2 separate regions of the Homo sapiens genome follow, and region 1 is linked to region 2. The links come from fine-mapping of genetic effects on gene expression. Tissue or cell type: fibroblasts. Region 2 holds a variant in brackets; the other region holds the start of a gene. All regions are shown on one strand. Distances are from middle to middle. Region 1 holds the start of REEP3 (receptor accessory protein 3). Region 2 has its middle 110 kb from the start of REEP3.

What was found.
Region 1: REEP3 starts here. The variant in region 2 is fine-mapped to the expression of REEP3 in fibroblasts (GTEx, PIP 0.94).

Annotation. Positions count from the first base shown.
Region 1 is chr10:63,519,079-63,523,472 of GRCh38, reverse strand. REEP3 (receptor accessory protein 3) reads right to left here and starts at 2,072. Exons shown (of 8, transcript NM_001001330.3): 1 at 1,896-2,072. The coding sequence starts at 1,927. It also overlaps a transcript of JMJD1C not described here. RefSeq lists a silencer at 1,387-2,436 and an enhancer at 2,827-2,876.
Region 2 is chr10:63,633,461-63,637,854 of GRCh38, reverse strand. It overlaps the pseudogene MRPL35P2. Among named protein-coding and RNA genes, the nearest start is that of REEP3, 110 kb to the right of the region's middle. RefSeq lists a silencer at 687-786. The variant C/GAC (reference allele first, on the strand shown) is at 2,538.

The DNA.
Region 1 (4,394 bases), 110 kb after region 2:
TTTGTGGAGACAAGGTCTCGCTATGTTGCCCAGGCTGGTCTCTAACTCTTGTGATCAAACAATCTTCCCTCCTTGGCCTCCCAAAGTGCTAGGATTACAGGTGTGAGCCACTCTACTGGGCCTATTCTTTAAGGCCCATCTGAAACGTAATCTCCCTTGCCTTTTCTGATTCTCCAACCAGATATCCCTTCCTTGTCCAACACTGGGTATTAGAGTGGGTGTAACTTTTACAAGAGTTGACATTTGGACCTGTACTGCAGATATCTGTGCACCCAAACTGTCAATTCCCATGATCAACTACGTGTTACTGACCTTTGTGTTATAGGTAGCACCTAGAACAGACATTCATATTCATTGGCAATTATGAAAAACAAAAGTCTAAAAGTGCTTCACAATTTTCTGTCAGCTGAAGAACTGGTCAAAGAAATCCAGAGGCTTTTTTTTTTTTTTTTGTAAAGTACAGCTTCTTAATAGGGCACTTGATTTTCTAGGTGTGGACACAACAGTTGATAGACATCTACTAGGTCAAGAAAGGTATGCCTGAATTAGATAAATGACAGACTCAAAAGAGAGGCCAGGAAAAGGCTGAAAAACAATCTGAAGGCATCTGTGGTATCCTTTTGTTTATATCTTGATTTTTAGTTTCGTACAGGGGAACACAGGAAGCTCTGAGGCTTTAAAACTAGAAACTTTGCGATTTAATCAAATGAAAAATTTTGAATGCTGTGCTGCAAATCTGATTAAATAGGGCTAGTAATTCACTTCCAAACAAAATAAACCCCAAACTCAGAAAATCTAGCTCCTTTTAACAAAAAGTCTGGTAATGTTATTTTTCCTAAATTCTAAAGCTTATCAGAGAAGCCTGCCCCCTCACATAAACATTTTTTCATATACCTTTATGAAACCTTCTGAGATAACACTACTACAGAGGTGAATAATGAATTCATAGGCCCTAGCTGTAACTACGTCATTGTTTACTTGGTGACTTTTTTTTTAATCGGGGAGAGGGGTAAAATGGAGATGAGAGAAAATCAGTTTAAACTGTATTCAAATACATTTACACGATTAACACCACCAACTCAAGGAATTTCTTTTTCTTACAGACCTGTAGCACTTGTTGGTAGGAGAACAATGAAATGAACCCATAATTTGAACAAAGGCAACAGGCACCTGCAGCCTTTCAATCACTTAGCAAATATTTCCGCCGAGACAGGGCCGAATTCGGGGATCTGGGCGAGCAGCCGGTGTCACCTTTCTCGGTAAGCTGCAAATCTTGGGAAAACTAGGACCCTTCCCAGGGATCCTGGGCTGGGAGCGGTCTCCGGTTTTTAGACAAATCTCTCCTCCTACCACACGTGACCGAATGGCAATCAGCCGCCAAGAGAGACACCGCAACGCATCAGCCGCGGGATACAAAGGCTCGGCACTGCCGTCGCATCCTCGGGAGGATCGCGGAGCCTCCCGCGCTCGGCGTCTGCGGAGCCTGCGCAGGGAGCAGCTGCGAGGCGCGCCGCTCCCGGGCCCGCAGGGCGGTGCCGCGCTGCGCGGGGAGCAGGAGCGGGGAGCGCGCGCCGCCTGCCCTGAGCGCCTGCCCACCCAGCGCCGCCGGAGCAGGGGCGCCGCGCCGCACCGCACGCAGCCGAGCAGCGCCACAGCCGCCGCCGCCGTCGCAGCCGCAGTCGCCGCAGCTAGGCCCTCGGCCGTCGCAGGGAGCTCCGCAGCGACGTGGACCAAGGTGAGGAAGCCGAGGGCTCCCCCAGACCCTCGGCAGGCCCGAGGCCGGGCTACCCCGTCCCCGCCCAGGCCCAGGCCTTCCCTTTCCTCTCGGCTCCTTCCCCTTCCCACAGCTCCCCTGGGCCTCGCGCCGGCTGCAGGGCGCAGTGAGAGGCACTTACACCACGGCTCTGGAGATCATCCAGGACACCATCTTCACGGGGGCTTGGGCCCCACGTCCGGGGCGGGTGGGCGCAGGGCGCTGCGGACCAGGCCGCCAACGGCAGGCCGCGCGCTTCGCCGGCTCCTCGCGCTCCCCGGGGCCGCGCTGGCGCCCTCAGGAGCCGGGCCCGGTGTGTGCGCGCGGCGGCCTGGGCTGCGCAGAGGTCGGTCCCCCGCCCGTCCCCGCCCGCCCCCGCCCGCCGGCCCGGCAGCCTAGTCCGGACAGCACCCCGCCCCTGCGCTCCGCTGATAGGCGGTGGCGGCGGCGCGTTGGCCCGGGCCAGGGCTGGGGCCAGGCGGCCGGGCTCCAGGGCTGGGCTGGCGGGATCCTAGCCCGCGCTGGACGGCCTCGCTGCCGCGGCCTTGGCCCCTGCGCTCTAACCAACCTTACCCTCCTTAGCTCTTTGGGACGCCCACACTCGCGGCGAGAGTGGGGCAGGAGGCTGAGGAAGGGTACTGGAGGGTAGGGATTGGCAGTGCCTGTGTGAAAAGTGAGATATTCGCAGGAACTCGGTGTCCAATAAAACTCTCGACCAGGCCCTGGTTTTGGAGAGCCAAGACTTTGAGGTGTGCCTGGCCACATCCGGTATCCTCAGTGTTTACGGAGGCCCAGCACCAAAGGCGTCCTTATATTACCACATTTTAAAGGAATCGTCGAGAGGTTCTTGCACAGGCCTCCGTGTGTGCCACGAGTCTCGTGGTGCAATGCAGGGAGGGACAGAGGAGGATTTCATGTTTGCAGTAGTGGGTGCAGTGATACCACTGTTCTGGGCCTCTTAGGGCACCTTTTCATCAGAGCATCTGCAAAGACTGTTTACAGACACGAATCTCCATTATTTCCCTGAGGCCTGCCAGATGTTCAAAGTAAAGGCTGGGTCTAGGATTCCTGACCTGTCTTAAGATTTACAACTATATTACAGCTGTAAGATTTACAACTGTATTTTTTGGAGGTTGGGTTACTGCTTACACCTTGCTGTTCTTGCAAATATCATTTCAAGGGCAGACTTTTAAAACTGTTTTTTTTTTTTTTTTGTGACAGTACCAAATTGAGAAAATGATGTTAAAGTTTAGATATTTTTATTTTTTCCAGTTAAGACGATAGTAAAAGATAATTCTAGTATTCAGATGGTGCGAAGAATAAAAGATGAAATGTAGGCTTGGAGCCTTTAATTAAAGTCCTAGAAAATATGATGGCTTTTGTGACCATACTGTAATTTTGTCTTCTTGTTCCTCAGTTTCCCTGTGATAAAAAGGGGGTAATAATACTGTAGTCTGTCTCTTGCCTTTCAAGGGTGATATGAGGCACTGCTAAATAATATGTTTAGGAAATACTCTGACTTGCATGGAAGACAATCAAAGGACACAACAGATTATCCTAAATTATTTTCAGTTCTCAGTCAATAAATTGGGTAATATTTCATTATTTAAGAAACAAGCTCAGAAGCTACTTTCTACTCTTGGGTTAGGTTCTTTTCGCTTATTAATTCATGTCAAGACTTTTTATTTCAGGAATTTGAGTAATAATTTGCATTTAACTCTGAATCTTTTATTTTTGGCCATTATTCAGCATTATTTGAGGATCAGGTGTGCTGCATAAGCACCAGTTTTTTGGCGAACTCTCTTGTTCAATAAAACTCAAATGAATTTGAATATCATTCAGATCCCTTCATGAAAGGTCCTGAAATAGCTTTACAGCCTTTACTTTTACTACTTTCACCCCCAACTCCTAATGTACCCGTTCCCTACCTCTCTTCTTTCAGCCAACCTGTATTTTCATGCTCAGTGCTTTTGCCCAGATTTCGTTTTTCCCTTAACACTTTGCTCCCCATTCTGTACCTATCAGAACTCTCATTTTTCAGTGGCCTGTGCCATGAAGACATCCTTGGTTTTCCTCAGGGACAATTATTCCTAATTTTGTCTGTGCTCTCATAATTTATTACTTGAATTTCTATTTCTTATCTGTGTCATTCTGCCTCTACCATGTCTAATGTACTGAATGGTAAAATGTTTGAGAACAGACATGGTGTATTAGATTTCTTTGTGTTTTCCAACTATCTAGCCTCAGATAGGGTAAACGTCCAATAAAAATTTGAATAATGTTTGTGAAATACAGTCACTCTTTAGGCATCAGATTTAAAAAATTTCAGCCACGTACATTGGAAGTCTCTTAAAAATGTCTTTCTTGCCTTTTTACTTTGGAGGTCATCATTGTGAATATTAATTATTTCAGCTAATCCTAGTACATTAATGCCTTCAGGGGTTGCTGAAGGCAACCTAGGTAGGATGGCTGGCTGCTCTCTGAAATGTCCCTAGACTGCTGTGCGTTAAGTTTCATTTTGTATGCTTATTATATCTTCTGCCTCTTCCACATTTAGATTACTTTTTGCTGCTTTCTTTCTATTTACCTGGAACAGTGCCTTTTTTCACATCTCAATAGGCCATGGGTTGGAAACCACCTA
Region 2 (4,394 bases):
CAGTAAACAGTATAACAGTGCATCTCACTGTGTCCCATCTTCCCCTCCTCTTCCCCCTCCTTAGCAGACTGCTTTGTGCCCTGCTTTCTACAGTAGCTGGGCTTACACCACTTTTACCAACATAGTGGCACCAGGAGCGAGTGAAGAGGAGAACAAAACTTCAAGAGATATTTGGAAGGTAGTATTGGCACCAGTTTGGTGGCTGACCTAATGTGGGGAGTGAATGAGGGGGGTATATTTAAGACGACGCCTAGGTTTCTTTTTCTTTCTTTTCTTTTTTCTTTTCTTTTTTTTGAGACGGAGTCACTCTGTTGCCCAGGCTGGAGTACAGTGGCACGATCTTGGCTCACTGCAGCCTCTGCCTCCCAGGTTTAAGCGATTCTCCTGCCTCAGCCTCCCGAGTAGCTAGGATTACAGGTATGTACCACCACACCCAGCTAATTTTTGTAATTTTACTAGAGACGGGGTTTCACCATGTTGGCCAGGCTGGTCTCGAACTCCTGACCTCAGGTGATCCTCCCACCTCGGCCTCCCAAAGTGCTGGGATTACAGGCGTGAGCTACTGTGCCTGGCCCAACTCCTAGTTTCTAACTTGGACAACTAAGTGGCTAGTACTAGCACAATTCCTAGCACATATTAAGCCCTCAGGGAATATTTACTGGATGAATAAATGCATGACTTATGGGACCATAACTAAGGTAAAGACTGCAGAAGGTGTTTATTATTGAATCATATGTAGAATACCTCAAGGAGGTTTCACAAACACTAGTTGGAGGTGTTTGCAGTCCTTTCTAAAGAGGCATTCATACAGTTATATATGAACGAGTCAAGGCCCTAGAAAGAGAAGTGAAAAGCTGAGCCTAGAAGGGTGCTGACAGCCTGTCCACAGTTCAAACAGGTTTCATTCTTGTTCAACCCGAATATGGACCTAATCTGTTCCAAATAAGCTGAGTTTAAACTATTTCAATTGTCCATGATTCACAAAGCATCCCGGCCCAGTTCACATAGTGCTAAATCTAGAACCTCTAATTTCTGAGCTATTTTCATTTTACGAAAACCACAGAAAAACAGAGCTAAAAAGCCTTCCAAAGGTTATCTGGCCCACTCCCCTAGTTCAGGAATGATTTGGTACACAGGTTTAGCAAGATCACTGGTATTTATTTTTCTGTAGAGCTGACTGACACTCAACTACCAAATAACAATATTATGTTATGGAAATGCCAGCCAAGAAAAGCCTACAGAATTAAAAAGGAAGAAACATCTTTTTTTCAACTATAATTGGGTGGTGTCCCCTGAAGGTACAGTTTTTTGCAAAGTTAGGGATATTTTGGCTTAAATGGAATTTATGGCTAAGCAAAAATGCTAGACTAGCAATGGTTATAAAATAATTATTGTACTTGGTGCTAAAACTAAAATTACTGGTCTAAAAGCATGATGAAAATTCCAATGCCAGTCACTTCAGAGTAGCATCTTTTTTTTTTTTAGATGGAGTCACGCTCTATCGCCCAGGCTGGAGTGCAGTGGCGCGATCTTGGCTCACTGCAAGCTCCGCCTCCTGGGTTCACGCCATTCTCCTGCCTCAGCCTCCCGAGTAGCTGGGACTACAGGCGCCCGCCACCACACCTGGCTAATTTTTTTGTAGTTTTAGTAGAGACGGGGTTTCATCATTTTAGCCAGGATGGTCTGAATCTCCTGACCTCGTGATCCACCCACCTCGGCCTCCCAAAGTGCTGGGCAGAGTAGTATCTTATAAGTACTCAAGTTATAAAGTCCCCAAGAAAGGGGAGAACCAAGTACAGCCAAATAGGTTTGCTTTAAAAATACTCAGACATGGCTTACTATGTTCTAGGCACTGTTCTAAGATATTTATATTATTAATTTAATCCTTATAACAATCCTATAGAGGTAGTACTATTATTAGCCTCATTTCATGGATGAAGAAACTGAGGCATTGAAAGCGTAAGTAACTTCCCCAAGGTCAGACACTAACGTGGTGAATCCAGGACTCAAACTCATTACGGAACTTCTCTGCATGTAAGGGCCATGCTGTTCAAACTGTCAGCATCTTTAAACACCCAGCATGGCACATTGATCATACTGTGAATAGCACAGGGGAACTAAGAGATAAAGTAGATTCACATCTCCCATCTCATACTTGTTCTAGTGCATACATTTACTGAGCAAAATAGTAAACACACTTCCTCACACTATTTAAATTGTTCTCATTCTTTCTCTGTCACTGAGTGACCGTAGTTTGATTTGCATATTTATTGGGTGCCTTTTCTATGACAGGTACAGTTTTGGACTGGAAGTTCCTTGTTGAACAAGATTGACCAAGTCCCTACACTCATAGAACATGCATTCTAGAGGTAAAGCAAACAATAATCAAGTAAACAGGTAAACAGGATATTTGATAAGAGATGTGAAGGTGAATAAAGTAGGGCAATTGGTTAGGGAACGGCTACGGCTACGGTGCTTCATTTATATTAGGGGTGGTGATGAGGGAAGTCCTCTCTGAGGCAACATTTGAGCAGAGA[C/GAC]CTGAGTGAGGTAAGAGAGAAAGCCATGTGACGGTCTGGGGGTTGAAAACAGAGGAAACAGCAAATGCAAGACCCTAAAGCAGTAGTCCGCTTCATATTTCTGAGGAACAGTGAGAAGGCCAGTTCCTGGAGAGGAATGAACAGGGAAGAAAGTGATAGAGGATGAGGTGAGAAGATTAGGCAAGAGTCCAGTCATATAGGTTGTGGTGAGGGAGTGTGGATTTTATCCAAGTGTGAAAAGAAACTACTAAAGGATTTTGAATAGTAGAGTGAGCACATTTCATTTGTATTTTTTAAAAAAACCGCTTTGGCTGCTGTGTGGAGAATGAAATATACGGTGAAGGAGTGGAAGCAGGGAAAATACTTAAGAGGTGATTGCAGCAGGTTGGGCAAGAAATGATGGTGGTTTGGACTAGTTGCTAGTGCAGGAGGTAGTAAGAAGGGATGGGGTTTGGGATACATCCATATCCATAAATTAGAGCTGAGAGGGATGGCTGCTTTTGCCTTTGCTGGTGCAGTGAGAGCAGCTTCAGGAATCCGATGGCTCTTGAATATTTTGGCATCTTCAGCATACAGAAACTGTGTCAAGAATGCCTCTCTTATTTCTGCATTGTCCACTGGACGTTTCAGTCATATTTAGACACCAGTTGTTTCCTCCACTTCCAGACTTAACCACATCTGAGAGAAACCTGACATGTGGGCATACTTCAGCGATCCTTAATAGAGTGTCCCCCTTGCTTCCGAGTGTCCTGAAGCTGCCAGTCAGATCTCTAACATACTTCAGTACATGAAAAGACAAGAGAAAGACTGTGAAAGCTGTCATCTACAGGTTTCTTCGACTTCATTGTGGCCTTTGGGTGAGGTGAAAGGCTGGTTAAAAGAAAAAAATTATGGAAAAAGGAACCTGCAAGAAAAAAGCGATTGAGGGAATTTGTATTCTGCAATAAAACCCAGAGTAAACTCTTAAGATAAAATGGCGACGTCATTCTGGGAGAGGTAAAACTGGTATGTCCATGATCCTTATCAGAAGTATCATGATTGAACAAACCTGAAAGTATAGATCAGAAGTTTCACTTGTTTCTCAGTTATTGAATATGTATCTTTGTGTACATGCTATCTTTGCAAAAATGGAGAAGATGATGTAAATTGTACCAATGAATATGTAAACATACAGTGACAATATTAAACTTATAAAAGTTTTAAAAAAAATTAGACCTAAGAGGAAGGGCTGATCCACTGGATGTGGAGTGTGAGGGAGGTAATTTAGGGAGATGAGGGAGCTGTGTTATTATTTGGGAAATATTTCTCAGGGAAGATGATGAGAAAAAAATTGCATAGGAGGCATCTGAAGGTAAAATGGGACTAGAGCCCTGACCACAAAGGCCACAGCTCTATCCTGAGGAACTTTCTGAGAACATGACAGGAGACCCACAAGAGGGCACACTTCTCTCTTCCAGCCAAAATTATGGACACCTTCCATTCCAGTCCCTTCTGCTGCTGAAAAGTCATCCTTCAGACCACGATCATAGACAAAAGAAGAAAATTCTACCTGTTTTGTAGGTATTAGGAAGACTCACAGGGTGATCTGTGTGTATACAGAATCTATACTATAGATAAGCCAGAAATAAATACATAGGTACCTCTTATTTTTAAAATATATATACCAATGTATATATTAATATATCCACTATATATATTGAAATATGTTGGCCGGGCACCGTGGCTCACACCTGTAATCCCAGCACTTTAGGAGGCTGAGGCGGGCGGATCACAAGGTCAGGAATTCGAGACAAGCCTGGCCAACATGGTGAAATCTCGTCTCTACTAAAAATACAAAATTTAGCTGGGCGTGGTGGC